Linked DNA regions of Homo sapiens. The protein of the gene in region 1 purifies or fractionates together with the protein of each later gene. This does not show direct contact. Each region holds a gene or a part of one and is shown on either strand. Other genes may lie near its edges.

The links. Proteins that work in one complex are often made in the same cells at the same time.
Region 2: the proteins of MAP3K4 (region 1) and USP33 purify together in Homo sapiens (co-immunoprecipitation; one large-scale study listed by IntAct). This does not show direct contact.

The regions. Positions count from the first base shown.
Region 1 is NC_000006.12:160,998,269-161,001,768, forward strand, and holds part of MAP3K4 (mitogen-activated protein kinase kinase kinase 4), read left to right. Parts: intron 1-3,500. UniProt on the Homo sapiens protein: Component of a protein kinase signal transduction cascade. Activates the CSBP2, P38 and JNK MAPK pathways, but not the ERK pathway. Specifically phosphorylates and activates MAP2K4 and MAP2K6.
Region 2 is NC_000001.11:77,721,853-77,725,352, reverse strand, and holds part of USP33 (ubiquitin carboxyl-terminal hydrolase 33), read left to right. Parts: intron 1-1,909; coding exon 1,910-2,022; intron 2,023-3,156; coding exon 3,157-3,329; intron 3,330-3,427; coding exon 3,428-3,500. UniProt on the Homo sapiens protein: Deubiquitinating enzyme involved in various processes such as centrosome duplication, cellular migration and beta-2 adrenergic receptor/ADRB2 recycling.

The DNA.
Region 1 (3,500 bases):
TCTTAAAACCCTAATACTCAGTGTGATCGCATTTTAAAAAGTATGTGCATAGAAAAAAGATATAAAAAATACATACTAATTTTTCCTAAAACTTTTTATGATGAACGTGTTACACATTTTATTTTAAAATAAAAAGCTAATCAGAGAGCCTAAATTCTTAACTAGCTCATTTATAATTTTAAGTTTCTTTACGTTGAATTGTTACTAAAATTGAAATTGATGAGAGTCCATGTGATATAAAGAGAATATTGTTGCCAAATTTTAAATGATTTTATTTATTTTTGGTATCTGAGCTGGCTTATCTGAGCTGGCTGTAGCAAGCTGCTTTTAAAAAACTATTTACTTCAGCTTGGGTAATAGAGTATGTAGATTAGAAACAACTCCAACAGTAACAAAACAAACACAGGACTTACATTAGGGTGGTCTTTTACATTAATAGAAATATTTAAAATCTAGAACTGTGTTCTCAACATGTATATTGTGTTTAAATGCTTTCCCCATTTTAAGCGGTGTACTTGAAATGTCTATATTTTAAAAGATACATTATTCCACTGGCAGTGAGTATGGTAGGTGCATTTTTAGACCCCTGCAGATCTCACACTGTGTAATCGAGTGCCTTTGCCTTTAAATATTTATTCACTAGCAGGCAACATGAAGTTTTGTTTTTGAATTACAAGAACGTTCATGTTTTGCAATTTGCAGACCTACCTCAGCAGTATTGGTTTCATGGGTCATATGGATGCCACGTGTTTATAAATTAGCAGGGAAAGCTATTAAGAATATATTAGGCAGTCTATCAAAAGCATTTCATACATGGATTTCATTTCAGACAAAATAAGCCTTCTGTGGAGAAAAGTAGATACTAAGCTTTAAAGCTGATCAGATTTGATGTTTTCAGTGGAAGCTTTTTTGTGTGTGAGCAGGCTATTTGAAGATACTGCTGAAATGTAGAACTTTCTGAATAGGGCTTGTTAGAGGACAGCTAGTTTAGAGTTGTCAAATTAATAGAAATTGTCAACCTTTTTAGTGTTTCAGTGGGGAACTTTTGGACGATAGTACATTTATTTTATTTAAAATCCTAAAGTCTTTTTATATGGGAACATAAAAATGTAGATATAACTTGGTTTTCTCACACAATTTTTGGAGTTAGTTAGTTGTATCTGTTAAGTATTTAGTTCTTACTCAGATAAGGATTTAAACATTTGCTAATACAAGTTCTTACAGATGGTAGGACGCTTAGTGTTCATTTCATCCAACTTCCTAGCCATTGCTTATAGAATTACAAGAGTTGAGCTCTTATAAGATCATTTGGGCTGTGCGTCTCGTTTTAGAGATGAGAAAAATGGCCTAGAGGGGCTGCAGCTTTCCCAGCTGACAGCTTAGGCTCCAGATCTGCAAGCCCTTCTTCCCTTACCCTCGCATCGCCATGTGCTCCCCTGGTCAAGGTCCAAAGCCAAGGTGTTCTCCAGCCACCTGCCATACATAGCCCAGCTTAAGCCCATGTGCACAGTTACTTGGCAACCGTGAAATGCTGTATTTTCTGGATGAATTGGACTCAACAGGATCAAACGAGATGAAAGATTTGTTTTTAGAAAAAAATGCAAATAGAAAATATGAAATCCTCTTAAAACTCATCATCCACAACGTTTTTCCCCCGTGAAACTTTTATTTCTTGCTCGCAGAATAAAGAAGAGCCAATGCTCAGAAATTTTCAGATACGTTGTTATTTTCAGGCGTCGGTCTGTACATCAAGAAGACAGTAAGATTCTAACTTCTGGTCTGTAGTAGTGGTTTTGAAACTGTGTTTATGGTCGTGACCTACAGTAAGAAATATATTTTATGACAGTGTGTGTGTGCCTTATAACCAAAAGAAAACAATTTTGAAACAGTATTTGACCTTGCAATATATGATACTCAAATAATTCTTATTCTGTTCTATTAAAAATTGTTCATCATAACCTACTAAATTGATTTTATTACCCACAAATAGGTTGTGACCCTCAGTTTTAAAAGCATAGCTCTACCCAAAATAAAATGGATGCTGTTATACTTTGTACCTTGTCCCTTGAGACTGAGTCAGGAGAACAAGTACACTATTTGTCTACTAAATGATCAAATGGAATTTTGAAGAAGCTCGGCAATACTTACTTCTTGAAGACAGCATTGTTACCCGAAGGCAAGAGTAAGAATGTATCTATGCTTGTCTCTCAAGGTTGTTCTCTTGGCTGCTTATCCTTAAACTACAAGAATTGTAAAGATCAGTTTAAAATCTAGGATTAATTTTAGAGTAAAATTGGGATTGGCATTATGTGAATAATTTAGGTAATTTGTTGATCTTTCTCTGAAACAGTAACCTGTGTTTAAAATTTTTCACATAGAGCAGTCCTTAAGAAAAGAAAGGAACTCATTTTCCCCTGATATATATACACACATATATGTGTACACCATATATACACACACATACACACACATATATGTGTACACCCATCTGTATACACACATATGTGTACACCCATATATACACACATGTGTACACCCATATATACACACATGTGTATGCACACATACACATGTGTACGCACATATACACATGTGTACACATACATATATGTATATTATACTATACATATATGTACACACACATATATAGTGTATAATATGCATATATATGCACACATAGTGCATATTATATATAATATACACATATGTATATAATATATATTATATATTATAATATACACATATGTATATAATATATATTATATATTATAATATACACATATGTATATAATATATATTATATATTATAATATACACATATGTATATAATATATAATATATATTATATACACATATATAATACAAGTGTATATAAGTATATATGTATATACATATATATGTGTACACATATATAAGAAATCCAAATCCAAATACTGAAAAATTTACAAAAAATATTTACAAAAATATTTTTATCAAGTTATTAATTATAGGTGGAATCATGTATGTCTCAAGCTATGTGTTATAAATGTTATCAAATAATTCAAACAATATATTTCACATCTATATATTCTGTATATGCATGATATATATGTCATATGTAATCTATGTTAGGGTACAGCAGTTTCACTTTAGGTCTTAAGCATTGCTTACTTTAGGGTCCACCTTGACATTTCCCCCGCTTCCCCCCAGAATAGATGAGATCCTTCTGTTATGTGTCCTCAGAGCCCCTGCAGTTTGCCACCATTTGTAATTATATATTTGTGTACATATTTGTTTATTATGTTTGCCTTCAGTAAACTCCATGAGGGCTGGGGCATCGTCTGTTGTTTTGCTTACTTTTATTGCCTAATTCCTGGCTCGTTGCCTAACAGCAGGTTCTTTGCTGACACTTGTATGAAGGAGGCAGAGCATAGGTTTTGGTAGTAGATAGGCTTTGAATGTTACCTTTTGATTGCTAGCAGTAGGATTGTGGGGAAGTAATTTAGCCTCTCTCAGTCTGT
Region 2 (3,500 bases), on another chromosome or scaffold:
AGAATACAGAACAGCTCTAACACCCCAAAGAATTCCTGCATAGTACTACTTTGTAATCAGATCATTTCTCTATTCCTATGTTCTGGCACCCTTGATCCTCTTTTCTTATTGTTTTGCCTTTTCCTAGAATGTCATATAAATGAAATCATATAGTATGTAGTCTTTTGATTTTTTTAAATCTTTTCATATGTAGTCTTTTGAAACAGGTTTGCCTCTCAGGATAATGCATTTGAAATTCAGATATGTTACTGCGTGTCTGAATAGTTTGTTCCTTTTACTACCAAGTAATGTTTCTTTTTTTTTGTTTTGTTTTGAGATGGAGTCTCACTGTCGCCCAGGCTGGAGTACAGTGGTGCAATCTTGGCCCACTGCAACCTCTGCCTGCCAGGTTCAAGCAGTTCTCCTGCCTCAGCCTCCCGAGTAGCTGGGACTACAGGTGCACGCCACCATGCCTGGCTAATTTTTTGTATTTTTAGTAGAGATGGGCCATGCTGGTCTCGAACTCCTGACCTTGTGATCTCCCCACCTCTGCCTCCCAAAGTGTTAGAATTACAGGCATGAGCCACCATGCCCGGCCTAATATCTCATTTTTTATGGGTATACCACTGTTTATTTACCTACTGGTGGACTTTTGAATTGTTTCCAATTTTTGGCAATTATGAATAATGTTGCTCTAAAATTTATGTATAGGTTTTTGTAAGAACATTTTTTCATTTGTCTAGGACAAATACCTAGAAGTGGGGTTACTGGGTTTTATGTTTGTTTAATGCTTATAGTTGTATTAAACTGCCAGACTTTTTACCAGAGTGTCTACCATTTAGTATTCCTTCCAGGTATATATGGGAGTTCCAGTATTATGTTTTCTTAGAAGAAAACATAGGAGAAAGTCTTCATGGCCTTGGGTTAGACAAAGAGTTCTTAAAGACATTAAAAGCATGATCCATTAAAGAAAAAAATTAAAGATTTTTGTTGACAAAGGACATTCAGAGAATGGAAAGATAAGGTTGGATGTATTTATAAATCATATAGCTAGCAAAGGACATGTATCCAGAAATATATAAAGAACTCTTAAAAACTTTAAATAATAGAATCTTTTCTTCAAATAAAGCCTTACCTGGAGACAAAAACAAATAAGTGAAAACAGAATTGCTCTCAAGTCAGGATAGGGAGACCGAACCCCTTCTATTTCATCTTTAGCTTGATGATGACTTTCATCATCTTTCCCTCACTTTCTAACCTCTTCCCCTCTTCTTTTGACTTGTAAAACATTTAAGTAAACATCCCAGTGATGAAGCATTTGTGGTTTTGTGCTAATTTAGAATTTTGTTCATTTTCTCATATGTACATTTATGGTGGCCAAGGATCATTTATACTTTAAAAAAAAAAACAGGCTGGGTGCGGTGGCTCACGCCTGTAATCTCAGTACTTTGGGAGGCTGAAGTGGGTGGATCATGAGGTCAGGAGATCGAGACTATCCTGGCTAACATGGTGAAACCCTGTCTCTACTAAAAATACAAAAAAATAGCTGGGCGTGGTGGTGGGCGCCTGTAGTCCCAGCTACTTGGGAGGCTAAGGTAGGAGAATGGCATGAACCCGGGAGGCAGAACTTGGCAGTGAGCCGAGATCGCACCACTGCACTCCAGTGTGGGCAACAGTGCGAGACTCCACCTCAAAACAAAAAAACAAAAAAAAACAACAAATATCTTAAGCCTTGTCTGCTTAGTTTCTTTTATTTTTTTAATACTTATGCTCTTTTGAAGAGTATTTTGAAAATTTTCAACACAGTAATTTTTACAGTTTAAGGATTCTAGAGATCATATACAAGTAAGATTGACAAGACAAAAAAAGATTCCAGAGAAAAATGTTAAAGGAGCTGCTTTGATTTTTTTTTAATGTTTTTCAATCCTAGCTCAGTCTGCATCTCCAAAGAGAAAAAAACAGCACAAGAAATACAGAAGTGTTATTTCAGACATATTTGATGGAACAATCATTAGTTCAGTGCAGTGTCTGACTTGTGACAGGGTGAGTATGAGGGTATTAGAATACACAGAAAATTCGTGTCAAATGATTTTTAAAAATGTGACAAGATGATGTGAAAAGTTTAATTCCTTCTCTTTGCTATTGATGAGCATACATGCATTTATTGTGTTTACATCAACACAAATTTGATTCTAGGTGTAGAATTTTTTTTGGAAGTAGCAGCATCCTGTTTAAAGGATGGTGACCCATCATTGGACAGGCACATATTATCCTTCGTCATCTATTTTGGTTACATATAAAGGTGAGAAGTTGCTCAGCAACAAGAATTGGTAACACCTGCATATTCTCCCAGGCTGATGAAATTTGTATACTGGGAATCTGTTGATATTCACAGGTACAAAGCTGTGAATGTATCTCTTACATTTGGTCATATATGGTTTGTAAATATTTTTCCATGTTTAGGATGGGACTCAGATACTAAAGGTAGTATCAAATTCATAGACAATAACAAAGCATACATTAAAATCATCATGAATTTTTTAATAACACTTCTTCAAAGTTTCTTTGAGCTTTTCTTAAGTACAGTTTTACTTTAGTGCAATGATGAATATGAAATAACATCTCAAAAACAAAAAGAAGATTTCAATTATTGTGTTAGAATCTCAAGTCAAATCTAAGAACTTTCAATCGGGTCGTTTTAATGTAGGTTATTTTGGTACTAAATATTTAAGTGGAATTATCAGGCATGTTTTTAGCTATTTAAAATTAGATGCCAGATTTTGTCTCACCCTTTTAAAAAAATATTTTAAAACTACCATCAAAGGTCAATTTTCAAAAATAAATACAATAGTGCTTAAGAGTTTGGACCTCAAGATGCAGTGGCTGGATTTGGGGTGTTTAATGCTGCAGTGTCTGTGATTGTAATGGGGATGCTAATACTACTGCACAGGACTTACGTGAAGATACCTGGTACAGAGCAAGTGTGTTTTGTTTTTTGTTTTTGTTTTTTTTTTTGCTATTATGACTATGAAAGCAGTTCAATTTGCGTGTTTTTTTTTGTTTTTTGTTTTTTTTGCTTATTTAAACATGCTTTGATCTTTAGAGTCTAAAATCTAACCTTGGAAATGTTTTACTGCATTATGTTCATCCCATTTTTAAAACACAAAACAATTTTAGGTGTCTGTAACCCTCGAGACCTTTCAAGATCTGTCCTTGCCAATTCCTGGCAAGGAAGACCTTGCTAAGCTGCATTCATCAAGTCATCCAACTTCTATAGTCAAAGCAGGATCATGTGGCGAAGCATATGCTCCACAAGGGTGGATAGCTTTTTTCATGGAATATGTGAAGAGGTATGTATTTATTTTCTTTGTATTACATGATTGTTAAACCTGCTGTTTCTGCTGTACTGGCAGAACACTTCCTTTTTTTTCTATCAATGATGTTTCAGGTTTGTTGTCTCATGTGTCCCTAGCTGGTTTTGGGGTCCAGTAGTAACCTTGCAAGATTGTCTTGCTGCCTTC